4 linked regions of the Homo sapiens genome follow. The protein of the gene in region 1 purifies or fractionates together with the protein of each later gene. This does not show direct contact. Each region holds a gene or a part of one and is shown in the gene's direction. Other genes may lie near its edges.

Region 1 (7,025 bases):
CGCAGCAATTTCAGCAGTGGCCCCGGCTTCCCAGAGTATGGCTACCCTGCCGACACCGTCTGGCCTGCCATGGAGCAAGGTGTGTGCTCAGCAGGACAGAGGGATACCGGCTAACCCCACTGGGGCGGCCACCCAGCCTGGCATCTGAACACGGGAGTCAGGGCTGGGATTGGAATTGTGATGTCCTGGCCTGGCTCTGACCCAATCCGTCCTTCCGAGAAGCAGGGTGTGTCAGGACGGGCCGATGCTGTCTCTTCGATTGCAGTTTGGTTTAAGGCCTGAGAGCTGCCCTGCCTGCCCCGACATGCGTTTTAAAGTGTGACTCTGAGGACAGCTCATATCCAGGCTCTGGGCAGCCCCTGATCACATCCCCATCGCAGACCCCGTGGCTCAGCAGGCGTGCAGGAGGGAGCTGCTCATTCCCCTTGGAGACTCCGCTCCTGCAGTTGTCCCGCGTGTCAGTCAGAGTTCCCTTCCAGGATGCTCAAATGCTTTTTCTTGGCAAATTGCAGAAATATACGTAAAGATATAAAGTTACAGAATTTAATGGTAGGCTGAGTTTTTTTGTTTGTTTGTTTTTTGGTTTTTTTGAGATGGAGTCTCACTCTGTCTCCCAGGCTGGAGTGCAGTGATGTGATCTTGGCTCACTGCAACTTCTGCATCTCGGGTTCAAACGATTCTCCTGCCTCAGCCTCCTGAGTAGTTGAGATTACAGGTGTTTGCCACCATGCACAGCTAATTTTTGTATTTTTAGTAGAGATGGGGTTTTGCCATGTTGGCCAGGCTGGTCTCAAACTCCTGACCTCAAGTGATCCATCCTCCTCGGTCTCCCAAAATGCTTGGATTAGAGTGTGAGTCACTGTGCCCGGCCTTACTTTCTTAAAGTATTGTTTCAGTTAACATTTTTTCATTTCTTTTTTTTTAAGAGACAGAGTCTCACTCTGTCACCCAGGCTGGAGTGCAGTGGCACGGTCATGGTCTCTGTCTCCTGGGTTCAGGTGGCCCTCCTGCCTTGGATCCTTTCAAAGTGCTGGGATTACAGGCATGCACCACTATGCCTGGCTCCTTATTTTCTTTTTTGCTTGAGGTGTTTTGCTGTCCTTTTTGCTGGGTGCTGTGTGGTCATCGCAGTCTGAATTTGATTTTGTGAAAATGGAAGAGCTCGGGAGTGGGCCAGGCCTGGGAGGATTACGCACCGTGGCAGGAGCCTCAGGGCGGCTCATGAGGGTGTTGCGGGAGCTTTCTCAGTGTACAAGGGAACAGCTTTCATGCTTAATGATTCAGACATTTTTCTTTTCCTGACGTATGCTGAAGTTCTACTTTTAAGTATGATATTAAACAATTACCGACTTTTGAGTTGGAAGTCTGTCGTGATAAATCTAACCTGTGATTTAAGCTGTGTGAGCACATTGAAAATCTAGGCTCAGAAGCATCAGTGACAAGCTGATTGTTTCTTTTTCAATTTATTTTAAATGCAGTTTCATCAAGACCAACTTCTCCTGAAAAATTTTCAGTGCCTCATGTCTGTGCCAGGTTTGGCCCTGGCGGTCAGCTTATCAAAGTGATTCCCAATCTGCCTTCAGAAGGACAGCCGGCCTTGGTGGAGGTCCACAGCATGGAGGTAATGGCACACGCAGAAGCGTGGCGTCACTGCTCTGCTGCCCTGGGGAACTCTCTGCTTTGCAGTTTGTCATCTTCAATTGTCAGACCTTGTCTCTGGACATACGTCCTTGGAAAATGTTTATTCCTGTGAATTTTCAATTTGTAGGGTTTTTCTTCTATTTGATCATATATTTTTCCTCCTAGAAGTCAGTATTGTAAGCGTCTGCCTTGGGTGTTCAACGTGGTTTGATTGTATATGCATTTTCTGTCCTCGTTTTGGGGATGTTTGCTTTATTGGTGCTTTTCAATGATAGATGCAGTGGGTGGGCCCGGTGCTGCCCAGGTGAGGGGGGCGGGTGGGGTGGACGTGCACGGCGCTGCCGAGGTGACGGGGGCTGGCATGCGCCTCTTCCTGCAGCTTCTGCAGGCTTCTGTCACATGTATTGGGGTTCTGCCTCAGTATTTGGGGAGAGAAAATGGATTTCACTACTTAAAATAAAGTTTGAAATCATGGCTGTGGTCCACACAGGCCATGTTCCATGTAACAGCCTCGACAGAGCCTTCACCTGCTGTGGGGCGGGGCAGGTGGGCCATGCCATCCTCTCCTCTCACGGGCAGCATCCGTGCCTGGGTTGGCCGGCCTGCCAGCAGGGTGGCTGCGCACTGGCTGCCACTGACCCACGGCCCTCTCCTCGTAGGCCTTGCTGCAGCACACGTCTGAGCAGGAGGAGATGCGGGCGTTCCCGGGACCCCTGGCCAAGTATGTTCCTTGTTGAGGCATTTCTTTGTGAGCCCGGCCTTGCAGACATCACTGCTCACTGTGTGTTCTTTCTGCAGAGACGACACCCATAAGGTGGATGTCATTAATTTTGCACAGAACAAAGCTATGAAATGTTTGCAGAATGAAAACTTAATTGACAAAGAGTCTGCAAGTCTTCTTTGGAATTTTATTGTTCTCTTATGCAGACAAAATGGGGTATGTTTCTTTCTACTTCTAGAGTGTTTCTTCTTGCTGGTCTTCATTTCGTCTTGGGAATGCTCAGCCTCCCGAAGGAGCAGGGCGGGATCCGCGTGGCCAGCTATGGGAGCCTCGAGGGCCCCCTTAGGAAGCACACTGTAGTGGCTGGGTAGGGAGGGAGAGGGAACGTGCGGTTGGGATGGGATGAGGTTTCAGCCCAGCCTTGCCAGCCTTTCGGGTAGTTGTGGGTCTGGCTGTGTCCAGGGTGGGGCTTTGTGCCTGTGGTGGTCCAACGCGTCCTCACCTGAGAGCCGTTGTTCTCCTTCCTGTTCCTGTTGACCCAAACAGACCGTGGTAGGGACCGACATTGCGGAGCTTCTGTTACGAGACCACAGAACAGTGTGGCTTCCTGGGAAGTCGCCCAATGAAGCAAACCTGATTGATTTCACGAATGAGGCAGTGGAGCAGGTGGAAGAGGAGGAGTCTGGTGAGGCCCAGCTCTCTTTCCTCACTGGTGGTCCGGCGGCTGCCGCCAGCTCGCTCGAGAGAGAGACCGAGAGGTTCAGGGAGCTGTTGCTGTATGGCCGTAAGAAGGTGCGCCTCCTCATCATGGCACCTGGCGCCTGCACATGTCCACTGGGTCGGGCCTGGTGCGGGGTTGCAGCCTTCAGGGAGGGACGTGGCCCCCTCTTGGGAGCATCCGCGCTGCAGTGTGGGGCTTCGGGTCTTGCTGTTTCCTGAACAATGCCTGACTCTTGTATGCCATCCTTCTGGAGGTGTTAATGTTGGTTTCCTTCTAACTGTTTCCAGTGTTGGAGACCTGCAGATTAAATTTTCAGTTATTCGATAAATGCACATGTTGAGCACAGGCCGTGCCCCTGCTGTGTGTGCCAAATCTCGGATGAAATGTGCATGACACAAGTTGTGGCATTCTCACAAAGTCAGACTCGAGTCCACAGCCCAGAAGTCATTGGGAGTTGGGAGGGCACACTGAACCTGTCAGAGGCGCAGTGCATGGAAAGGCCATGGGCAAGAGAGCAGCCAGTGCGTGTAGCGTCCAGTGACTGGGGTCACAGCAGCGTGGGGACTGGGGCAGGTGGGGGGCCTGAGACAGGAGCCTGCTCTGGGACAGTGGGGTTGGGGGGTCCATAGTGACTGCAGCAGTGACACTATGTGCACAGGAGGGGCTGTCTAGGGTGCATGATGTTTGCTTTGGATGTGCTAAGCAGGAGAGAGGCCAGTCTCAGAAGCATGTGTGGCCCTGAACAGCAGAGACATGGGATAGGCTGAGAGTTTTCTGTCCTTTTATATCATGATAAACTCAGAAAGGGCATATTTGACCAGTATTTTTATTTTTTTATTTTTAATTTTTTTTGAGACAGGGTCTCACTCTTGCCCAGGCTGGAGTGCAGTGGCGTGATCACAGCTTAATGTGGCCTCGACCTCCTGGGTTCAAGTGATCCTCCCATCTCAGCCTCCTGAGTAGCTGGGACTACAGCTGCATGCCACCACGCCTGGCTAACTTTTTTTTTTTTTTTGTAGAGACGGGGTTTCACCATGTTGCCAGGCTGGTCTCGAATTCCTGGGCTCAAGCAATCCGCCCACCTTGGCCTCCCAAAGTGCTGGGATTATAGGCATGAGCCACCGCGCCCGGCCTGATCAGTATGAGTCTATTATGGATGTTTTATAACTGATTGAAGTCATGTAACCTGTTAGCTTTTATTAACATCTTTCTCTACTGTAACGTTTTTGCCTCCCAGCCAGAAGTTCTAAATTATGCCCTGGATGATTTTGGTGAAAGGGGAGGCTGCCTTACTGGAGTCACTCTCCGTGTTGACAGGATATTCGCGGAGGCCTCCTGTTAGAACTGGGGAGTTGACTCGAGCGTGTTTCCCAGTGGATGGGGCGGCGTGGTGGGCAGCGCTGCGTGATTAGCCCTGTTTGTGATTAGCGTGCTTGTGTTTTATGCTGAAAATGGATAAAAGCAGCAAATATCTACAAATACCCACTACCACAGGGACTTTGAAACTCAGGAAAATAATGAATCGCTACGTGTCTTTAGTCTCCAAATGGTGAATAAGTGTGTTTTTGAGGCCTTTGGGTTGTTTGTGTATCTGCTGCTGCGTGAGGACACATGGCCTGTCTTGACTCATGTCACGTGAGCGCCGCCGATAACCCACCAAGGTCCCTGAAATGCCTTTTGCAGGATGCTTTGGAGTCTGCAATGAAGAATGGCCTGTGGGGTCACGCTCTGCTACTTGCAAGTAAGATGGACAGCCGGACACACGCCCGAGTCATGACCAGGTACAGTCCCACAGTGGCCTGGTCCAGTGGCGAGCCCTGCTGGCTCCCTGTAGCACGCGGCGTCCGCACCCTGGGGGCAGGCGGCAGGCGGATCTCACTTGACTGTGCTGTGCTCCCACACGAACTCGGGCTTCCTTGGCCTCGAGGCTTCCTTGGGTCGTGTTGTGGAGAGCTTAAAAAGTTTTTAATTAACTGCATGGTTTTTAGTACTTCATGTAAAATCTCAGTGAATTCCTCAGTCTTCATCTTTTATAGCTTTTTTTAAATTTTGAGTTTTGCTCTGTTGCCCAGGCTGAAGTGCAGGGGCGCGATCTCAGCTCACCGCAACCCCTGCCTCCCAGGTTCAAGTGATCCTCACGCCTTGGCCTCCCAAGTAGTTGAGACCACAGGCACCCACCACCACACCCAGCTAATTTTTTGTATTTTTAGTAGAGGTGGGTTTTGCCATGTTGGCCAGGCCGGTCTCAAAACTCCTAGCCTCAAGGGATCTGCCCGCCTTGGCCTTCTGAAAGTGCTGGGATTACAGGCGTGAGCCACCATACCTGGCCTTATCTTTTACAGCTTTTTTTTTTTTTTTAATATTGAGATAAGAAAGAAAAATAAAATATTGAGATGTGTGTACTTTGCCTAAGTGAAATATAAGTCTAATCATTACATCAGAGGGCTTAGGGCTGATTTTTTAAAAAATTTATTTTATTACTATTTTATTTATTTATTTTTTTGAGACAGAGTCTTGCTCTGTCACCCAGGCTAGAGTGCAGTGGCACGATCCCAGCTCACTGCAACCTCTGCCTCCTGGGTTCAAGCGATTCTCCTGCCTCAGTCTCCTGAGTAGCTGGGATTATAGGTGTGCACCACCACACCCGGCTAATTTTTGTATTTTTAGTAGAGATGGGGTTTCTCCATGTTAGTCTCTTAACTTCTGACCTCAGGTGATCCGCCCACTTTGGCCTCCCAAAGTGCTGGGATTACAGGCGTGAGCCATCATGTCCGGCCGGCTTTTTTCTTTTAGCTGAGCCAGCATGGGGTCTTTCTGTGTTTATGTCTGCCTAGGTTTGCTAACAGCCTCCCAATCAACGACCCTCTGCAGACAGTCTACCAGCTCATGTCCGGACGGATGCCTGCCGCGTCCACGGTGAGTGGCACTGCCTGGTGGCTTGCACAGGCTCCACTGCCTGTGTGGAGTTTGCTCGTGGGTGACGCTGTCACAGGCCGTGAGGTGCCTGGTGAGCCCAGCTGTGTGGAATTGAAATGGCGCTGGCTTCCGGGGATGAGGCTTCGTTTTGTTTTTCCTCATGTTAGTGCTGTGGAGACGAGAAATGGGGAGATTGGAGGCCGCACCTCGCCATGGTCTTGTCCAACTTGAACAACAACATGGACGTCGAGTCCAGGACGATGGCTACCATGGGCGACACTCTGGGTAGGTCAGGGGTGGAGATGGGCATTGGGTGTCGCGGATGGAGCGCCGAAGGCCCGGTTGTCTGTGGCGTTGGCAGAAATCACCAGAACCCGGCCTTCTCGGTCCGGCTGGCGTCTCTGGTGCCTTCTGTGCGCGTCCTTGACTTCTGCAAGCGCTCCCGGTCGCTGAGCCCCCGCCGTGTGTCGTGTCGTCTCTCCGCAGCTTCAAGGGGCCTCTTGGATGCGGCCCACTTCTGCTACCTCATGGCCCAGGCGGGATTTGGTGTTTACACGAAGAAAACTACAAAGCTTGTCTTAATCGGATCCAATCACAGGTAAAGAACCAAGTCAGTGTAGTCCTGTAAGTTTTCCTTTCAAAGTAAAACAAAATCCTTCTCCTTTAGTGAATTCAGAAATGGCCAGAATCATGTCTTTATTTGTCACGTGGTGGGACACACTTCTGGATGATTTGCTCCAAGGTTGACTATGCCAATAATTGGCCATTTTTTCCAAATCAAAATAATTCACTTCCTCTACAGTTTGCCATTCTTAAAGTTCGCAACCAACGAAGCAATCCAGAGGACGGAAGCCTATGAGTACGCCCAGTCCCTGGGTGCCGAGACCTGCCCCCTGCCTAGTTTCCAGGTAAGCAGGTGCTGCCAGCCTGCAGCTGTCATGGCTGGGCAGGCACTCAGTGCTAACAAGCTTTTGGCTACTTAGATTGTTTGAATTGGTATCGAAAAAAATGATGTGAGTTTTTTGG
Region 2 (6,949 bases), on another chromosome or scaffold:
ATGTACCTCTGCCTTTGAGTATGCTATTTTACAACTCTGTAGAGATAGAAATTAACTTATAGAAGATAGTAATGCAAATGTTCCCTGCCCACAACAATGAAAACTATTCCTGTCCACAGCAATGCAAATCAATTTTGTGTGATAGAGAATATGTCACTATAAATCAAATTCTCCTTAGAACCAGTCTGAACATCCCTCCTGGTCGTAGGGATTAATTAAAATCAATGAATGAGTTAAGTAAGATCTTTGGCACATGTTCATTTTATATTTGCATGAAGGCCATAATTTTACCTTTTGAAACACTTTAACAGTTTTGAAGCTTTCACCAACATCCCAATGGATTCACCTGACAGAACCAGGTAAACCACATTACTGAAGAACACCCCATGGGGCTAAGCCCAAGCACATTTTTTCCTGGCTCCGGGAGTGAATACCAAGTAGCAATAGTACTACAGCGTTGCTGACTTTCTCCCTAGGTTTCTTTCTCCTCCTTACTGATTTTGGGTTTTGTTTCTGATTCGCCCACAGCTGGCGGATTTTTCCCCATGAATGGCGACACCAATTAGGAACTCGCGGGAAACCCCGTTGCTCCCTTTCCCCTGGCTGGCAGCGCGGAAGCCGCACGATGCCTGGAGTTCCTGTAAACCACGTGAACCAGCGGGACTTCGTCAGAGCTCTGGCAGCCTTTCTCAAAAAGTCCGGGAAGCTGAAAGTCCCCGAATGGGTGGACACCGTCAAGCTGGCCAAGCACAAAGAGCTTCCTCCCTACGTTGAGAACTGGTTCTACACACGAGCCGGTTCCACAGCGCGGCACCTGTACCTCCAGGGTGGCGCTGGGGTTGGCTCCATGACCAAGATCTATGGGGACGTCAGAGAAACGGCGTCATGCCCAGCCACTTCGGCCGAGGCTTCAAGAGTGTCCTCCGCCGGGTCCTCCAAGCCCTGGAGGGGCTGAAAATGGTGGAAAAGGACCAAGATGGGGGCCGCAAACTGACACCTCAGGGACAGAGAGATCTGGGCAGAATTGCCGGACAGGTGGCAGCTGCCAACAAGAAGCATTGGAACAAACCATGCTGGGTTAATACATTGCCTCATTCAGAAAAAAAAAAAAAAATTAGGAACTAGGTTTTACATTCTGAACATTTGGTGATCTCTTTAAGTGAATTAATAGTTTTTAGAGATCTATTCTCTTTTGGATAAGAGATGATGAAAAATCTGGTTTGTTAGTCTTTTTGTTTGTTTGCCTTTTTGTCTACTTATGAGTTCAAATCAGTTAAGACTTCCATGCCCATTGGGAAGGAGAACAGCTTTTTGTTATCTAGTCCACTGAATTTTTATGTTTCTGAATTTACTTTCGACCTGTGGCCAAAGTTGCAGAACCAAAGCTATATGCTATGTGTCTATGTGTCTTCCCGGCTGTAATCAACAAAGGCCTTCCCCTCTTGTTGTGGGAGTAAAAAAATCTTACTACCTTTGTAAAGTTTTAATAAGTTATATTATTTCATGTCTTAAAGGAGCTCTGTTATAATTCACTTATGGAAACAAACACATGTAAATCAATTATTTCTAAAATTCCAGAAAATAAGTAAATTAAACTTATGCATGCAAAATTTCTTAAAAATGCTGAAACCATCCTGACAGGGTTAACAAGATTACAAGCCAGCCTTTAGGCAGGTTAGTTAGGCACTGACCAGGGTGCATTGGTGCCCTTCAATTCACTTCCCTGCAGCTGCTAACTAACCAAAAGCCTTGCAGCACACTGATCACCTACTCCCTGATTGCTCCTATCCACAGAATCTCTGACACTAGCTCTTTGTACCCAGGAATTGCTTAAGGTATTTTTCAGATCCTGAATTCCCACAAAACAGCTGATGCCAAACTGTCTAGGGATCCCCACCAGGAAGGGCACAGTGGCTCACGCCTGTAATCTTAGCACTTTGGGAGGCCAAGGTGAGAGGATCGCCTGAAGCCCGGAGTTTGAGACTAGCCTGGGCAACAAAGTGAGACCCTGCTTTACAAAAAAAAAATTTTTTTAAATAAATAAATAAAGACCTCCACCAAGAAACAACACTGGAATGAAGTTTCTTCATCTCCCTGTCCCATGACTTCACCTCTCACTTCCTGACCAATCAGAAATCCCCACACTTTAGCCCATTGCCCCTCCAGACTTCTTAAAAATGCCATCTCTAATCTCTTGGGGAGGTGGATTTGAGGATTGCTCTTGTCTCCTCATTTGGCTGCCACTTGATTATGGAACTCTTTATCTGCTGCAACTCCTATTCTTTCTGTTACCGCACAATGGACAATCGAACCTGATGGTCCTATAACAATCTTTCTTACAGAAATTGCTAGTACAGAAAGAATCCAGGTTCAAATAATCAAGGCAAATCTTTGGCGAATAATATTAAGTTTTGGTTAAAAAAAATCCCAGCTATGTCTTTTCTCAGTGTTAAGTATTATACATGTGTACATTTTGAGTTTGTTTCCTTACCGAGAATAATTAATCTGAACTTCCTAAATTTATAAAAGTTTACTATTGATAAGCTAATATTAACATTACATTGTTTAAGATCCTGAAAAATGTGAATTTGTTCAACAAAACTGAATCATTCTCACATTTAACAGTAATTGTTTCTTTGTGCCTTAAACTATTAATAATTTCTATGATCTGTAGATAACTTAAAACTTAGTATTAAATTGAGCTAATTAATGGATACTTCTTGGATGCCTAGATATGTTCTTGCATAATTTTATGTTTACATCGTTTTGCTTATTTTTATATGCTACAGAGACTACAACTCTGAGTCACAGTAATGATGTGTTCATGTTTGCCACTTGTCAGCGTGTGTAAAAATGGTTGTGGTGGCTTTATACAGTTGTGTTCTATCGCGCCTTTTGCAGCAACATGGATGCATCTGGAGGCCATGATCCTAAAAGAATTAACGCAGAAGCAGAAAACCAAATACATGTTCTCACTTGAAAGTGGGAGCTAAGCATTGGGCACACATGGACACAAAGGTGACATTAATAGACGCTGGGGACTACTAGAGTGGGGAGGGAGGCAGGGAGGGGCTGAAAAACTTGGGTACTATGCTCAGTATCTGGGTGACCAGCTCATTCGAATTCGAAACCTCATAGCCAGGTAACAAATACGCAGTGTACCCCCTAAATCTAAACGTTGGAATTATTTTTTAAAAGAAAGTTATGTTCCATGTATTTCTAAGCTTACTCTCCTAAAATGGTTGAATATTACAGTTCTCAATTATTTATCTCCATGTAGAAGGATGACAGGGACTGTGCGCTAGTGCCAGCCTCCGCTGAGAGCGCCAAGACATTACAGCAAGCGACGGTAGGAGAGCTTGTAACGTGAAGCACCACCACACCTCTGTACTTCAAACTTAACCACAGAGACCGACTCCCAAACCAGCAAGTGCGTAAGCGCCGCCGCGCTCACCACCCGCCCCGCCCCTTCCGCATGCTAATGCCTTCTTCCGGCAGCCTTAGTTTCTTCCAACCAGTGCAGCTCCCTGTTCCGCGAGCATACGTCATCGTTCTCGCTTTCCGGTAGCTAAGGCGATCAGCGGGACTTCCCACTGAGACGAGCGGATGTCATATTGTATCAGGGCGAACCTCTGAGGAGCGCTGGCTGCGCTTAGGCAACGGTGCGGCAGGCGCCGGGGTTTTCTGAAACAGAAACGTTTAGGGGTGGGGAAACGTGTTCCGAGGAACTCTCGTTTTGAAGTGCGACATACACCTGTCTTGCCCTGTTCCAAGATGGTGGCAGAGCTTCTCTGAGTCTCTCGCTTCCTCCAGTCCGTCGGAGAAGCGCTCTTTGATTGGCCAGTGGACAGCGCCGTGGCATGACGCGCTGGGGCGCTGGCCAATCGGTTGAGAGCTGAGCTGGACTTGGCGGTGGGAGCCGGAGCCTGCTTGTTGCAGCTGTGGGTGAGGACGGCTCTAGCTAGGTGAGCGGCTCCGGCCAGGTGAGCGGGGCGCATAGGTGACGGAGGGCCGAGGGCACGGGTATGAGTTTCTGCCGGGGGCGAGGTGAGCGGCTTCTGGGAGGAGGCCTTTTCTTGACAGTTTAGGGTAGCGGGGGAATGGATGATCCGGGAGTCCCCTGCGGATGTCGTCCCGCACCAGGCCGGGACCGATTTCTGGCTCCAGTTTCCCCAGAATTGCGGAGTGCGCACACCTGGAAGGACCCAAGTCCCGTTTTATAGTTGAGAAACTCAAGACTCAGACAAGTGAAACGACTTTTGCTTCATGACAGCTGGAACTGGAACCCAGGTCCTTGGACTCCCTTCAAGGATTAAACCTCACTTATTCTTACATACACATGGTCACTGTGTCCTGAGAAGTTACGAGTTGGCGCGATAAGGGTGGTTCAGATTTTTTGGCATATTCTCCTGTTATCTTTCCAGGCCTTTCATTCATTCACTAATTCATACTTTCAGTTATTTACCTCTTCAGATACCTTCCCCGATACTTTGGTAAAAGCTATGGACCCATCTCCCTAGAAAAACGGCATATTCCCTCATGCGCATAACTTCAGATGATTAGTGGACCTTCTATAGTCCCCTTGGATTATGTGTCCACTGCTAAGAATCCAGACCCTAGAAGGGTGAGGGAAACAGGCAGTAGGAAAAGGAGGGAGCAGGTCTTAGGCTGTACATGCTTGGAAACCATTAGATGGAGGCAGTAGCTTCTTTTTTTTTTTTTTTTTTTTTGAGATGGAGTCTCGCTCTGTCGCCCAGGCTGGAGTGCAGTGGCGTGATCTCGGCTCACTGCAACCAATGCCTCCCAAGGTCAAGCAGTCCTCCCTGCCGCAGCCTCCCGAGTAGCTGGGATTACAGGCACCTGCCACCACGCCCAGCTAATTTTTGTATTTTTAGTAGAGACGGGGTTTTGCCATGTTGGCCAGGCTGGTCTTGAATTCCTGACCTCAGGTCATCCACCGGCCTCGGTCGCCCAAAGTGCTGGGATTACAGGCGTGAGCCACCGCGCCCGGCCGCCAGTGCCTTTTAATAAAGAACGTTTTGAGAGAGAGACGGTTATTTAATGAAATCTGCTGACATACTTGCTGAGAGTTGTGATAGAACTTGCTTTCATTCCGACTTTAGTTATCCCTTTGCTTCCCATGAAGCTCCAGAGTGCTTCCTGTGCACACAGTGCTTCAGGTTCTTGCCGTTGCCAGAAATAAACAGATTTCTTAGAGTTTCAGTTGGAGCAAACATTGGAATTCTTGTGTTCTGGGCTTTATGTAGTAGAGTAATTCATTTGCTTTTCTAGCCATGCAATATTATTGCCTTAATCAAAATTATTTACAGTATGGTACTTCCCAAAATAACAGACAGTTGTTATCCATATTCAGGAAGTGGGCGCGAGAGGCCACTTTAATTTGATAGACTCTTTAATTTGCCTTTTTACTACTTTTCTTGAGGGGCTTGTTCCCTTGAACCCCAATAGCTGAGTTGTGTGTTACCCTAGATTTTAGGATATGAACAGGATGTATAAATACTCAATGAAGTTGGGATCATCTGGGTTTGAGAGTTTAGCCTGTAGGACAGTTTTACTGACCACAGTCTTCATTTTTTTTTTGAAACAGAGTCTGGCTCTGTCGCCCAGGCTGTGCAATGGCATTGTCTCGCCTCACTGCAATCTCTGCCTCCCGAGTTCAGACGATTCTCCTGCCTCAACCTCCTGAGTAGCTGGGACTATGGGCACGTGCCACCACACCTGGCTAATTTTTGTATTTTTAGTAGAGACGGAGTTTCACTGTGTTGGCCAGGCTGGTCTTGAACTCCTGACCTCGTGATCCGCCCATCTCAGCCTCCCAAAGTGCTGCGAGTATAGGTGTGAGCCACCACACCTGGCCTTGACCACAGCCTGTCAAGGCATGAACATAAGCAACCGTGGTGAGGAAAGAGGTTCTGGTGAGACTCAGCATAATAGTAATTTTGGTAATACCAAGTAGAAATAATTTAGCTCAAAACTGGTTCCCATTATGAACCAAACTTGAAGATCAGTATCCAGCTCTTTTCTCCAAAGTTAACAAAGTGCGGAAGGGAATGAGCACCCCCCCGCTACTGAAAAAAAAATCACTTGGAATGTAAAATTTAATAGAGGAAGAAAGGAAGGAGATTAGAGAGGAAGATAGTTGGATGCCGAAACAGGGTTCAAGACTTACCCTTGAGCAAGGGGCTGAAATTGGCTTGACTGATAGGACGTGTGATCTGTGAGGAGGTTTGAAGTAGTAGTGTTTAACTACATGTAGTTTGGAGATGATCAGGTGATTGTAAACCTCCCACTCCTTTGATTTATTTTTAAGTGCTTGAAAGGAGAGGTGAGAAAGGAGCAGTGATCAATGATAACTGTGCGGTTAACTGACTTTTGGGTATCAGATGGAAAAGAAATACTGTCATTCTACAGCAACAGGTTCTTCCCAAGTATTTAAGAAACACTGTGTTAGTTGGGCCGGGTACAGTGGGTCACGCCTGTAATCCCAGCACTTTGGAAGGCCAAGGCGGGTGGATCACCTGAGGTCAGGAGTTTGAGACCAGCCTGGCCAACATGGTGAAACCCTGCCTCTACTAAAAATACAAAAAATTAGCCGGGCTTGGTGGCACAGGCTTGTAATCCCAGCTACTTGGGAGGCTGTGGCAGGAGAATCGCTTGAACCCGGGAGGTGGAGGCTGCAGTGAGCTGAGATGGGAAAAAAAGAGAAACACTGTGTTACATGACCCATCTTCTTTTTTTGACATTTAGTTCAGAATTTCACATACCATTAAGGTAATTAAAGTTTTATCTTCAGTTCCCTTTTAGACTATGGCGACATACCTGGAGTTCATCCAGCAGAATGAAGAACGGGATGGTGTGCGTTTTAGTTGGAACGTGTGGCCTTCCAGCCGGCTGGAGGCTACAAGAATGGTTGTACCCCTGGCTTGTC
Region 3 (7,025 bases), on another chromosome or scaffold:
TTGCTGTGTTGCCCAGGCTGGTCTTAAACTCCTGGCCTCAAGTGATCCTCCTGCCTTGGCCTCCCGAAGTGCTGGGATTATAGGCATGAGCTACCATGCCCAGCCCCATTTTTCAAATGAGAAAACAAAAGTCAGGCAAGGTTAAGCAATTTCTCCCAGGCCTTACAAACATTTCATAGTATCAGAGGTGGCATCTGAACCGAGACAGCCTGGCTGCAGAGTCCAAGTTCTTTCCCATGGTGTGATCTGAGCTATGATCATGCTGCATATCTCAGGGATGCTTCTCTACTCAACAAACATCTACTGAGCATCTGCTGGGCCAGGCACTGTGCTGGGCTCTGGGGACATAGCAGTGAAAAGGACAGAGATGACATTCTGATGGCAGAGACAGACAAACACATTATAAAGTAAGGTCCTTTTGGGCTGGTCACGGTGGCTCAAGCCTGTAATCCCAGCACTTGGGGAGGCCGAGGCCGGTGGATCACCTGAGGTCGGGAGTTCGAGATCAGCCTGACCAACATGGAGAAACCCCGTCTCTACTAAAACTACAAAAAATTAGCCGGGTGTCGTGACGTGTGCCTGTAATCCCAGCTACTCAGGAGGCTGAGGTAGGAAAATCGCTTGAACCTGGGAGGCAGAGGTTGCAGTGAACCAACATTGCACCATTGCACTCCAGCCTGGGAAACAGAGGGACACTCCATCTCAAAAAAAAAGTGAGGTCTTGAGGTCTTTTTGGACTAAGTGTTAGGAGTTAATACAACCACAATAGAGAGTGATTTTAATGACGGTAACACAAGGGACTCACTGTGCCAAGCAGTATTTTTATTTTTTATTTTTATTTGTTTATTTTTTGAGACGGGGTTTTGCTCTTGTTGCCCAGGCTGGAGTGCAATGGTGTGATCTCGGCTCACTGCAACCTCTGCCTCCCGGGTTCAAGTGATTCTCCTGCCTCAGCCTCCGGAGTAGCTGGGATTACAGGCATGCACCACCACGCCTGGCTAATTTTTTGTATTTTTAGTAGAGTCGGGATTTCTCCATGTTGGTCAGGCTGGTCTTGAACTCCCAACCTCAGGTGATTTGCCGCCTCGGCCTCCCAAAGTGTTGGGATTACAGGTGTGAGCCACTGCGCCCGACATTCTTTATAATTTTTAACTCATTTCATCCTTATGTCCTCCCATCAGAGTGCATACTGTTATTTAGCCCATTTTATGACAAAGAAAGTGGCTGGCACACGCTTTCTTGAGTCTTCTGCTTTGGGGGTATCAAAACCTATAACTGGGCCAGAGGCAATGATCAGGCACAGAGAGGGTGAGTAACTTGCCCGCAGTCACACAGGTGGCGGAGTGTTGCTGGCAGAGGGAACAGCAAGTGCAAAGATAGGTGTAGTCACCAGAGACAGTGGGTATGAGGTTGTTTGAGGCTGAGTTATCCAGACATGAGTGGGTCCCCAGCAGGGGCAGCAGAGACAGCGGGGCAGGTGTGCTGGCTGGATAGACTGCTGCGTGTTTGTGTTCTAGGAGGCCAACGGTCCTGCTGATGGCTACGCAGCCATTGCCCAGGCTGACAGGCTGACCCAGGAGCCTGAGAGCATCCGCAAGTGGCGAGAGGAGCAGAGGAAACGGCTGCAAGAGCTGGGTGAGGGCGGGGCTGAGGCGGGGTTGGCTGGGTGGGCTGTGTGTGGGGTGGAGTGTGGGGAGTCCTCGGAGTGCATGGGATGCTGCATGCCTTAATGTGGGACTGGGCCGGTGCGGCCCTGTGGCTGCCTGGCAGGGGCCAGGGGAGGAGCGCGGCCGGGCCTGTGCATCCCAGCTGGAAAGCAGCCACTCATTCTCTTGTGGGGTCCTAGATGCTGCATCTAAGGTCACGGAACAGGAATGGCGGGAGAAGGCCAAGAAGGACCTGGAGGAGTGGAACCAGCGCCAGAGTGAACAAGTAGAGAAGAACAAGATCAACAACCGGTGAGAGGGCTGTAGGGACATGAGGGGGCCATGGGGACATGAGGGGGGCTGTGGGGACATGAGGGGGCCGTGGGGACATGAGGGGGCCATGGGGACATGAAGGGGTGGGGACATGAGGGAGCTGTGGGGACATGAGGGGGCCGTGGGGACATGAGACGGGCTGTGGGGACATGAGGGAGCTGTGGGGACATGAGAGGGGCTGTGGGGACATGAGAGGGAGCTGTGGGGACATGAGAGGGAGCTGTGGGGACATGAGAGGGGCTGTGGGGACATGAGAGGGGCTATGGGGACATGAGAGGGGCTGTGGGGACATGACTGAACACTGCCCAGTGCTCCCTGCCTTTGAGGCTCTGTCCTTCACGGTACAAGGTCTTCCAGGAAGGGAAAGGCCTGTTCTGGGAAGCTACCCTTCTGTCTAGGGAACTGCTGCATGCCAGGCTCTGGGGTAGGCACGGAGGAGATGGAGATAAGGAGGACCCAGCCTTATGTCCTCAAAGGGCGCAGAGGAGAAAAACACACATGTTCAACTAAGCTCAAATACAGTAGGGCCCTCTGCACGAAGGCCATGGAAGCAAGGAAACAGGTCAGGGAGAGACCTCTGTGTCTTGGGACTTGGGCTTTGGAAGATGACTAGGAGGAAAAAAGGGAAAAAAGGGCAGGAGGTAGGGGGGCATTCTAGACCTGGGTACGAAGAAAAAAATGTGATGTATTAGGCAACAGGGGGCCAGGGAGCGGTGGGAGAGAAGGCAGGAACCTGTGGACTCACACTGTAAGGGCCTTGGCTGATGAGTTGGGCAGTGACATGGGCAGTGGGGAGCCACTGAAGGTGTTTGAACAGGAGTAACATGATCAGGGATGAATTTTAGAGAAGGTGCTGGGGCCAGGGTGAAGGTCCCCATTCTCCTGTTTGGGGCTGTGGGTCGTTGCTGAGCCTTCCAGAACTATGCTTCCTAACATTTCTCCCACTGGAGGTACTAATGCTGTCTCTCTCTCTCTCTCTAACCTTCTGCCTGCCTGTCTGTCTTGCCATCTGCCTTCCCCCACCTAACCCCTTCCCTCAACCTTTCCCTCAAGGATCGCTGACAAAGCATTCTACCAGCAGCCAGATGCTGATATCATCGGCTACGTGTACGTGTCTGTTTTGCTTCTCTGTTGGGGGAGCTAGAGAGGGAATGGCCACCACAGTTTCTTGAGTTTCCTGCTTGTGGGATATAAATGAGTGTGGCTGGGCTCGGAGCAATGGTCAGAACAGGAGGCAAATGCCCTGGTGGGTGCAGGCAGCAACCACCTCCCTCCCTCCAGTGAAGTGGAGGCTGCTTGGCTAAATCAGAGCCTTGCAGGATAAAGGCAGAGAAAGGAATGTGCTTGCCACTTATTCCCATGTGGGAGGGGCAAATGGCAGAGCACCCCAACTCCCTCCCTCTGTGATGTCTCTTGGTGGGTGTGTGGGGTGAAGGGTTTTTTGTTTTTTGAGATGGAGTTTCGCTCTTGCTGCTCAGGATGGAGTGCAGTGCTGCGATCTCGGCTCACTGCGACCTCCACCTCCTGGGTTCAAGCGATTCTCCTGCCTCAGCCTCCCGAGTAGCTGAGATTATAGGCACATGCAACCGTGCCCGGCTAACTTTTGTATTTTTAGTAGAGACGGGGTTTCACCATGTCGGCCAGGCTGGTCTCGAACTCCTGACCTCAGGTGATCCACCCACCTCGGCCTCCCAAAGTGCTGGGATTACAGGCATGAGCCACCACACCCAGCTGAAGGGGTCTTTTATTCAACAAAACAGACACTGAGCATGGGATGCTGGAGGCATGTAAAGGACAAGAGCTGCTCCTTTGTGACATCCATCTCTTCCTCCTGCCCCAGTGCACTGACTTTGGCCATCAGCCCCTGCCCAGACCACCACAGGCCCCCTCACATGTTTCAGGTTTGGGGTCTACTTGGTGTGATGAGTAATCAAGACCAGGGTTGGCAAACAGGTTATATCTCGTGCCGACGTCAGTTAGTTGGTAGAGACATCCTGGAGGGTGGTGGTGGGGATTGTGGAGCTGAAGAGAAGGTACTTGCTGTTCTTCACTCTAGGTGTGCCCTGGCAGCCCGTCATGTGTCGAGGCTAAGCCTCCTCTCACAGGGCACAGAGCACACCAGAGCCTTCGTCTGCTTCCTTCCACTCTCCCTCATTTAGTACTCTTTGGCACTCGCCTTGTGCCAGATTGGTAAGACACCCACAGGCCGCCCCCCTCACCGTGCTCATGGTCTGGAGTGTGTTATGATAAGGGCCTTGTGGAAGGACACAGTGAGCTCTGGAAGCCACTCTCTGCCTGGGGAGCCTGGGCAGGCTTCAGAGATGCAAGACCTTCAGCTGACCTTAAAGTGTGAGAAGGAGTTTGCTGGATAGGGAGGGTGGGAAGAGAAGGTGGGAGGAGCAGCTGGGGCCAAGGCATCCAGAGAGAAAAGGCCCAGCTGGCTGCAGTGGCTGAAGCTCTACAGGCTGGGATGGTGGGGATGGTGGGGATGGTGGGGATGGGTGGGAGCTGAGGCTGGGAGGTGGTTGGCTTGGGGCTGGTTGCAAAGCGCCTGTTGTGCCAAGGCTGAGCTCAGACTTGATCCAGAAGGCAGTGGGGAGCCACAGGAGGCTTCCAGCAAGGGATGGGGATGTCAGATGGGCATGGGTGCTGTGGAATACCACAGGGGGCTCGATGCTTCTGTTGAGCCTGAGGAAATGGCCCAGAGAGCACCCAGGAGAGCCCTGAAGAGAGAGTATAGACCAGGGCTTCTCAAACTTTTTTTTTTTTTTAAGACGGAGTCTTGCTCTGTCACCCAGGCTGGAGTGCAGTGGCATGATCTCAGCTCACTGCAACCTCCGCCTCCTGGGCTCAAGCAATTCTTCTGCCTCGGCCTCCTGAGTAGCTGGGACTACAGGTGCCCGCCACCATGCCCGGCTAATTTTGTGTATTTTTTAGTAGAGACGGGGTTTCACCGTGTTAGCCAGGATGCTCTCCATCTGACCTCGTGATCCGCCCACCTTGGCCTCCCAAAGTGCTGGGATTACAGGCATGAGCCACCGCGCCTGGCCACACCCAGCTAATTTTTTGTATTTTTAGTAGAGATGGGGTTTCACCATGTTGGCCAGGCAGGTCTCGAACTCCTGACCTCAAGTGATCCACCCGCCTCTGCCTCCCAAAGTGCTGGGATTACAGGAGTGAGCCACTGCGCCCAGGCTCAAACTTTCACATGCCTATGAATTACCAGGGGGTCTCGTGAAAACCCTGATTCTGATTCAGCAGGACGGTGGGGAGGCCCAAGGGTCTGCATTTCTGACAGGCTCTGTCGTCATGCTGATGCCATTGGACCATGGACGCTTTGAGCTGCAAGGACAGAGGGGAGCCTCTGGACCCTGAAGGGACAGCTCCGAGGATAGCTCCCCTCATCCCCACTTGCCACCCAGCTCCACGCAGCACTTTCCTTTTTTCCAGACCTGCTTGCTACCTCATTGAATTCTCAGTCCAGTGAAATAGTTGGTAGGGCAGAGCTATGATCCTCATTTTACAGGCTAGGAAATGAGCATACAGCCAGCATCCCTAGAGAGGGGCCAGGTCACCTGATCCGGGGTCAGCTCTTCCATGGAGCGCTCCTGCCATCAGTCATGTCTGGCATCGGCAGAACTGGTCCTGCTTGAGATGGAGAGGGGGCTTCCAGGGACTTGTGAGCGACCCTCGCTGGCCAAACAGGACATAGACCCAGCTCTCCTCACCTAAGAATCCCTTATTGTCTTTCTGTTAGTGAGTCCCACGTGTAGATTTTGTCCACTAGACTGTATTTACTTGTTTCCCCACTGTCCCTTAGTCAGTGGCTTCTGTGACTGTCAACCAGAACTTCTGATGAAGGACCGCCAGTTTTCATCCTAACTTGATTCCAACCAAAAGCAGACTCCAGTGGAGCATTCATGCCCCAGGCTGTGGCTCCTCAGAGACAGTGGTGGTTCTGGGCTACAAAGGGCTCTGTGGTGAAAGACGCTTGGGATGTGGTGGATTCCATCACATACACACCTTGGAGGGTCACGACGCACACAGCACATGAAAGGCTTTGAAAGTCTTGCTGTAAAGATCCTCTTTAGCTGGGTTTTCCATAGGTATTTGACCACAGTCTTTCTGGAGAATCCTCACACAGAACATTCAGGCAATGCTGAACTAGGTGCTTCTGTTAGATGGTTAGTCAGTGTCCTACTTCTGCCAAGTTTTTGGAAATGGTGAAATAGCTAAGGTCCTGCATTAGGTCGTCCTAGGACCTCCAAGGGTCTTTAGGTGTCAGGAACCTCAGGTTGGGAACTCCCGATGGGGAAGTAATGAACAGAGGGTGCCTAGGCTGGGAAGACTTTCTGAGGAGGTGAGGCCCGCACTGAGACCTGAATGACAAGAAGCAGCAAGCCAGGAACAGGTCTGGGAGAAGCGTGTTCCAGGAAGAGGTGATAGCAAGTGCCAAGGTCCTGAGGCAGGACCAAGCTAGGCTTCCTCCTGCGCCAAGGCTGCCCTCCTCTGAAGTCAGGGGGGCACAAGGCTGGGGAGGACACAGTGCCCCAGAGTAGGCTGGGCAAAGCAGCCTTGCTCAAGGGCAAGGCTGGGGGAAAGCAGACTGCTATAAAAGCCCGTCCTATCTCCACCCGCAGGGCATCCGAGGAGGCTTTCGTGAAGGAATCCAAGGAGGAGACCCCAGGCACAGAGTGGGAGAAGGTGGCCCAGCTATGTGACTTCAACCCCAAGAGCAGCAAGCAGTGCAAAGATGTGTCCCGCCTGCGCTCGGTGCTCATGTCCCTGAAGCAGACGCCACTGTCCCGCTAGGTGCCTGCTAGGTGCATGGCCACAGAGCATGGGCTGGGCCTGGGCACAGGAGGAGCAGCTGCTTTGGTCGGGGTGGAGACTCGCAGCAGCTGCTACCCACAGCCTATTCCACTCCTCCCCATCTCCAGGCGCTGGGAGGGGGGCCCTCACCCCATCACGCCTCGCTCCCTCCTGGCCCTCTGGTCCAGCCCCTCACGCCTCCTCTCAGTCTACTCAATTGTGACTGTCCCTCCT
Region 4 (7,025 bases), on another chromosome or scaffold:
ACCAGCCTGCCCGACATGGTGAAGCCCCATCTTTACTAAAAATACAAAAATTAGCCGGGTGAGGTGGTGCTCACCTTTAATCCCAGCGACTCGGGAGGCTGAGGCAGGAGAATCTCTTGAACCTGGGAAGCGGAGGTTGCAGTCAGCTGAGATCCCCCCAGTGCACTCCAACCTGGGTGACAATGAGGCTCTGTCTCAAAAGAGAAAAACAAAGAATTCAAGTAATCTGCCAGGTGCAATGGCTCACACCTATAATCCTAGCACTTTGGGAGGCCGATGGGGGTGGATCACCTGAGGCCAGGAGCTCGAGACCAGCCTGGCCAACATGGTGAAACCCCGTCTCTGCTACAAATACAAAAATTAGCTGGGTATGGTGGCAGGCGCCTGTAATCCCAGCTACTCAGGAGGCCGAGGCAGGAGAATTGCTTGAACCTGCGAGACGGAGGTTGCAGTGAGCCGAGATTGCACCACTGCACTCCAGCCTGGGCAACAAGAGCAAAACATGGTCTCAAAAAAAAAAAGAGAGAATTCAGGTAATCTTTTAACCCCAGAAAAGTGTCTTCCCCAGGTACCAGTCAGACATCTTATTCCCAAACTTCCAGTTGAATATTTACTCTTACTTGTTTTTAGGAAGTACCTCCTCTTATGAGTATTCCCCTAGATAACTGACAGCTTGATTTCATGTTTCAGTTTTCATGCTGCCTTTTTCATCTATAATAAGAAATATTTTAGAAGCTGCCACACTTGAGGAAATATTCGTTGTGTAAAGAAATGCTGTCACTGTCTTAAAAAGTTAGTAGGTTATATAACTGGACTCTGTTATTAAAGGATTAACATAAAATATTTTATGTGTTCCAGGACCCTGAACCATCAATATGACTACACATTTGATTGGACAATGTTAAAGCAGAAAGCAGCACAGCAGGCAGCCTCTTCCAGTGGGCAGGGTCAGCAGGCCCAAACCCCCACAGGCAAGCAAACTGACAAAACCAAGAGTAACATGAAAGGTTAGTAGCCAAGAACCAAGTGACGTTACAGGGAAAAAATTGAATACAAAATTGGGTAATTCATTTCTAACAGTGTTAGATCAAGGAGGTGGTTTTAAAATACATAAAAATTTGGCTCTGCGTTAAAAAAAAAAAGACGTCCTTGGAAAATTTGACTACTAACTTTAAACCCAAATGTCCTTGTTCATATATATGTATATGTATTTGTATATACATATATGTGTGTATATTTATATCATTTCTCTTGGGATTTTGGGTCATTTTTTTAACAACTGCATCTTTTTTACTCATTCATTAACCCCCTTTCCAAAAATTTGGTGTTGGGAATATAATATAATCAATCAATCCAAAATCCTAGACCTAACACTTGTTGATTTCTAATAATGAATTTGGTTAGCCATATTTTGACTTTATTTCAGACTAACAATGTTAAGATTTTTTATTTTGCATGTTAATGCTTTAGCATTTAAAATGGAAAATTGTGAACATGTTGTAATTTCAAGAGGTGAGTTTGGCATTACCCCCAAAGTGTCTATCTTCTCAGTTGCAGAGCATCTCATTTTCTCTCTTAAATGCTCAAATAAATGCAAAGCTCAGCACATCTTTTCTAGTCACAAAAATAATTCTTTTATTTGCAGTTTACGTATGATCTTAATTTCAAAACGATTTCTTTGTTTTTGGCTTGATTTTTCACAATGTTGCAAATATCAGGCTCCCAGGGTTTAATGTGGAATTGAAGTCTGCAGCCAGGCCTTGCAAATTGAAGGTAACTGGGGCAAATGCCATTGAAACCGCTAGTCTTATTTCCTTTCTACTTTTCTTTGGCACTCTTACTGCCTGTAAGGAGTAGAACTGTTAGGGCACACTGTTGCTATACAGTTTAACTCCCATTTTCATGTTTTGTCTTTCTTTTCCCATTTCTGGGGCTTACCTCCTGATACCTGCTTACTTTCTGGAAGTAGTGGGCAAGTAAGATTTGGCTCTTGGTTTCTAATTTTTAAATTTCTGAATACTGCCCTAGTCTGAACTTGGCCTTTATAGATTAATCTTTGCTTCACATTTTTAGTGTTGTATTTAAACTATTTTATAATTTAAAAATAGATTCTAATCTGAAGATACTTTTCAAGAAATATTATTAACTGATGTCATCCTCATCCCAGCAGCTCATCTGTTAGGAATGAAGTTGAGATGCTTCTATTCCATGTTTTTGTATTTGGGAAGGATTCAAAGTTGAAGGTTTATTGTCGTTGGGTTTTTCAGATGGTGACATGTAAACTCAGGATAGCAAACCCTAATGTTCACACAGTGCTCTGCCTCTGCATCTCAGTTGGGATAGTTGCTCCTTTTGAGTGTTTTAATCATCGTATAACTAATCATAGTGCCAAGAAGTTCATAATGTGTTATGTAGCTAATGTCACTGAAAAACAGTCCTACCATTTTAGGTAAGACCAAACAGAGTCTCTAACCCAAGGACTTGTTACACCTGACAACCTATAGTATATTTGCTTTTTCTCACAAAATGAAACCAATTTTGCCGAAAGCTAGCTGGGATAATAGGATCATCACAAGTTGCAGTTTCTATAACTAAAATTAGATTGAAATCTCTTCTGACCTAGAACATTTTACTTCAGGCATTCAGCAGATTTCAGAAAGAATTACCTTATTTTAAGTTAGTTTCTTTGTTAGTTTACTGTGTGTCTCTTATTCAATAAACAAGCAGAATTTGTGTCCTGCCCTATCCATGTCTTAAAGATGAGAAGTTGGATCCACTGAGTTAGTTTCATTGGGGCGGGGGAAAGAACTGTAATTAAACTTGTTTAATCCTTATTTTGTATTGTAGCTATTTTTTGTAAAAGCAACTTAAAATCTTTTAAAAATTTTATAGTGACATTAGAGACAATGGTCATACAAATTATCACATAAACATGGACTTGAAAAATTAGGCTTTTCATAAAACACATCACATGTCATTGACTGCTTTTTAGAAATACACTTCCAAGGCAGTACATCTGTATTGCTACTGAAAAGTGCCATTTCACAGAACACAGACTTCTTTTTGCTCTTTGACATCTTGAAAACATCTGTTTTTCTTTTTTAATACAAAACTTTGTGCTCAAGACAAATCTTACATGAAACTCTCATAAACCATGAAAATGTAGCTGGCCTTCGGGCCTTAGGCATGAAATAAGCATGAGGAACATATTCCCCTAACTTCTACCCCCAGCCCAGCAAGTTATCCTTTAAGAAATCTCCTAGGAATTCTGGAGTTTGAAAACAATTGCTCTATGTTATTCCTGCTTCCAGTCTCTAAGTAACAAGGGCATTTAAAAGCATAGTCTCTTAAGGTCCACTATAGTGGTTCTTTATTTAAGGAATAACTCAGCTGGGTGCAGTGGCTCACGCCTGTTATCCCAGCACTTTGAGAGGCTGAGGCAAGCAGATCACTTGAGGCCAGGAGTTCGAGAGTCTGGCCAACATGGTGGAAACCCATCTCTACAAAAAATACAAAAATTAGCCAGGTGTGGTGGCGTGCACCTATGGTCCCAGCTATTTGGGAGGCTGAGGCAGGAGAATTGCTTGAACCTGGGAGGTGGAGGTTGCAGTGAGCCAAGATTGTGCCGCTGCACTCCAGCCTGGGTGACAGAGTGAGACTCTGTCTCAAAAAAAAAAAAAAAAGGAACTCATACAGCTCAATGATTCATTGATCCCAATAATAAATCGTTTTAATAATGATGAAAACATCCTACTGGGGTTTTCTTGTTAAAAACTTTAGGACAGGCGCAGTGGCTCATGCCTGTTATTCCAACACATTTGGGAGGCTGAGGTGGGAGAATTGCTTGACCCTAGGAGTTCTAGACTTGCCTGGGCCACATAGTAAGACCCTGTCCCAGCTCCCTCCAACATCGTCCCCAACCCCCCCCCCCCCAAAAAAAAAAAGCGCCAGGCGCAGTAGTGAGTGCCTGTGATCCCAGCTGTGTTGGGAGGCTGAGGTGGGAGTATCACCTGAGCCCTGGAGGTTGAGGCTGCAATGAGAGCTGTGATCATGCCACTGCACTCCAGCCTGGGCAACAGATGAGACCCTGTGTCACAACAAGGAATTTTTAGAAGGTGCTTTTTATATTACTCTTCACAGAGTTAAATTTTCAGAGGATTTAGTATTATTGAACTAAGTTTCATAAGTGTATTTTAAGCAAGTAAATCTCTAATGTAGGAAAATCCCCAAAATGGTAGCATTTACTAATGTTTTATATGGTAATTTTTGAAAAATATATCTGATATTTCTTCAGTAAAAATGGTGTTGTTTTAATAACTTAATAAGAATGTTTAAAGATTCTTTAAGTCTGGCTTATCTAGCTAATGTGGGCCTATTAAATAATAGGCAGACTTCTGCCTTCCTTATATTCTTTAGATCTTTTCAAATACTCCATTCCAATATCCATCAAAAGACTTCTCTTTATGCCACTTATTATCTATACTAGTTTTTAATGTTCAATTACTACAAGATTATAATTACTGTTTTTATTCATGTTCCCAAGAAAAATACATAAGATTCACACCCAACACACTTCGAAATTTATTTCACTCCCTTTGACTATATGTGATTATCAAAAAAGTATTTTTCAAGATATTAAAAATAAGTAAAGGAAAATGAAATATTTTTAGGACATTCAAAATCTAATGAAGTTCAGTGTTTCTTTAATTGAGGGCAGGCAGAGGTGGGGGAGAATTTCAGAAGGTAGTGAACCCAAAGGTGGATTCTTGGATAATTCTACTATTCTGTACTCTCATCATCTTAACCCATCTGTTTACTACCCTAACCATAGTTACTAAGCAGAGTTTTATCATAATAATATAGACAGCTCTCAAAGTATTGACATTCAGAGGGGATTACAAATATTATTTTTCTATCATATTGACCTACCATGTCCACAGTCTTCCTTGAATTACCTTCCAGTTTTACTGGGCTGCATCTACCGTTTATGTCTAGTTTGACTTTTTCTGAGTTCACCAATTGCTGCTAGGAATGTGCTGGTCACTCAGCAGCACACCCACATCACAGGGGAAGATTTTGAAATACCTGGACAGTCTGAACACACTGCTCTGAATACACTCAATTCTAAGAAGTACCAGGGAACCGCATCTTCTTGCTGAAATCTTGAATTTTTGTCAGCTTTTTTTTTTACTGTGGACAGTAAAGCTGGAAAGATCTAAATAACCCAACAGGAAATGCGGATGAAAGTGCAAGAGTTGGTTTGTGGTCATCTGGAGTCCATGTCTCCAAGACTGCTGGACCTTCAAATTCTGCAACTTGTTAGATCATCTGGATGATAGCACAACTGTTAGAAGACCTAGAAGAATACAGCGTTGCTATGACTCAGTGGTGTTGAATGCAGACCATCTACCAGCTGGGGAAAGAATCAATTATAAACAGGTATTTTAAAACTCCAGAACGTCAGAAATGTGTAGCAGAATGAATTCTGTTATAAGGAAGACAAAACAATTCAGTCTGTTTTTTAATGCAGTTTAGGAATAGTGTATACCTCCTATACTTAAAATTGTCATTTATCTTTCCCAACTTTAAATACTCTTTTAGTTTCTATAGGGAAGGAAGAGTTATTACAGGTTTTTTTTTTTTAATTATTCTTTAACTTTAGATACTGCCAATCTGATTTAAAATTCTCCAAGCTTAATTCTGTGCAACAAACAGAACCACACAAGCAGCCAGGCACTGTGGCTCACTCCTATAATCCCAGCATTTTTGAGGCTAGATGGGAAGATCACTTGATCTCAGGATTTTGAGAACCATCCGGACAACATAGGGAGACCTCATCGCTATTTTAAATAATTTTAAAAAGAAAAGAAAAAAAAAGGCCGGGTGCGGTGGCTCGCTTCTGTAATCCCAGCACTTTGGGAGGCTGAGGCGGGCAGATCGTGAGGTCAGGAGATTGAGACCATCCTGGCTGACACAGTGAAACCCTGTCTTTACTAAAAATACAAAAAAGTAGCTGGGGCCGGGCGCGGTGGCTCATGCCTGTAATCCCAGCAGTTTGGGAGGCCGAGGCGGGCGGATCACAAGGTCAGGATATCCAGACCATCTTGGCTAACATGGTGAAACCCCGTCTGTACTAAAAATACAAAAAATTAGCCGGGCGTGGTGGCGGGCGCCTATAGTCCCAGCTACTTGGGAGGCTGAGGCAGGAGAATGGCGTGAACCCAGGAGGCGGAGCTTGCAGTGAGCCAAGATCGCGCCACTGCACTCCAGCCTGGGCGACAGAGCAAGACTCCATCTCAAAAAAAAAAAAAAAAAAAATTAGCTGGGCGTAGTGGCGGGTGCCTGTAGTCCCAGCTACTTGAGAGGCTGAGGCAGGAGAATGGCGTGAACCCAGGAGACGGAGCTTGTAGTGGGCGGAGATCGCGCCATTGTACTCCAGCCTGGGTGACAGAGCGAGACTCCGTCTCAAAAAAAAAAAAAAAAAAAGAAAAAAAGAAAAAAAACCCCACAACCATGTTATAGGAAAAGTTAGTATAAATGACATAGCATAATTAATATATTCAAAATAACTTTTAAAAAGTTGTCTTGTAGCTTGAAGGGATCCTAAATATCAAAAGCCCATCACAAACTTACAAGCCTTACTGCTACGTAAATATCCCTTTGAACTAGTTTCTGGTTCTATTTAAAAAGTCGAAAACTGTTGAAATTAATTTACGAATAAGAACAGATACACACTTTGTGGGGAGGCTGAGGTGGTAGGATCTCCTGAGCCCAGGAGTTTTAAGTCCAGCCTGGGCAACATAACAGCAAGACCCCATCTCAAAAAAAAAAAAGCATATCTTTTGTTTATTTTTTTAATAGACAAAGTCTCACTATGTTGCCCAGGTTTATTTGGAACTCCTGGCTTTAAGTGATCTTCCTGCCTCAGCCTCCCAAAGTGTTAGCATTATAGATGTGAGCCACCTCGTCTGGGCCAGAGCATACATTTTAGATTTCAGATTGGGTGGCGGGCAGGGATAGAATAT

What was found.
Region 2: the proteins of SEC16A (region 1) and SEC23B purify together in Homo sapiens (affinity purification with mass spectrometry; 3 studies listed by BioGRID and IntAct, with this or other methods). This does not show direct contact.
Region 3: the proteins of SEC16A (region 1) and CLTB purify together in Homo sapiens (affinity purification with mass spectrometry; 2 studies listed by BioGRID and IntAct, with this or other methods). This does not show direct contact.
Region 4: the proteins of SEC16A (region 1) and CSNK1A1 purify together in Homo sapiens (affinity purification with mass spectrometry; 5 studies listed by BioGRID and IntAct, with this or other methods). This does not show direct contact.

What each region holds. Positions count from the first base shown.
Region 1 is NC_000009.12:136,459,016-136,466,040, reverse strand, and holds part of SEC16A (protein transport protein Sec16A), read left to right. Parts: coding exon 1-79; intron 80-1,478; coding exon 1,479-1,621; intron 1,622-2,300; coding exon 2,301-2,362; intron 2,363-2,439; coding exon 2,440-2,578; intron 2,579-2,908; coding exon 2,909-3,154; intron 3,155-4,766; coding exon 4,767-4,864; intron 4,865-5,917; coding exon 5,918-5,999; intron 6,000-6,166; coding exon 6,167-6,284; intron 6,285-6,485; coding exon 6,486-6,597; intron 6,598-6,801; coding exon 6,802-6,907; intron 6,908-7,025. UniProt on the Homo sapiens protein: Acts as a molecular scaffold that plays a key role in the organization of the endoplasmic reticulum exit sites (ERES), also known as transitional endoplasmic reticulum (tER).
Region 2 is NC_000020.11:18,504,008-18,510,956, forward strand, and holds the start of SEC23B (protein transport protein Sec23B), read left to right. Parts: upstream 1-3,932; 5' UTR 3,933-3,965; exon of another isoform or gene 3,966-4,290; intron 4,291-6,814; 5' UTR 6,815-6,828; coding exon 6,829-6,949. UniProt on the Homo sapiens protein: Component of the coat protein complex II (COPII) which promotes the formation of transport vesicles from the endoplasmic reticulum (ER).
Region 3 is NC_000005.10:176,392,540-176,399,564, reverse strand, and holds part of CLTB (clathrin light chain B), read left to right. Parts: intron 1-1,517; coding exon 1,518-1,635; intron 1,636-1,846; coding exon 1,847-1,958; intron 1,959-3,032; coding exon 3,033-3,086; intron 3,087-6,619; coding exon 6,620-6,791; 3' UTR 6,792-7,025. UniProt on the Homo sapiens protein: Clathrin is the major protein of the polyhedral coat of coated pits and vesicles.
Region 4 is NC_000005.10:149,499,429-149,506,453, reverse strand, and holds part of CSNK1A1 (casein kinase I isoform alpha), read left to right. Parts: intron 1-858; coding exon 859-1,007; intron 1,008-7,025.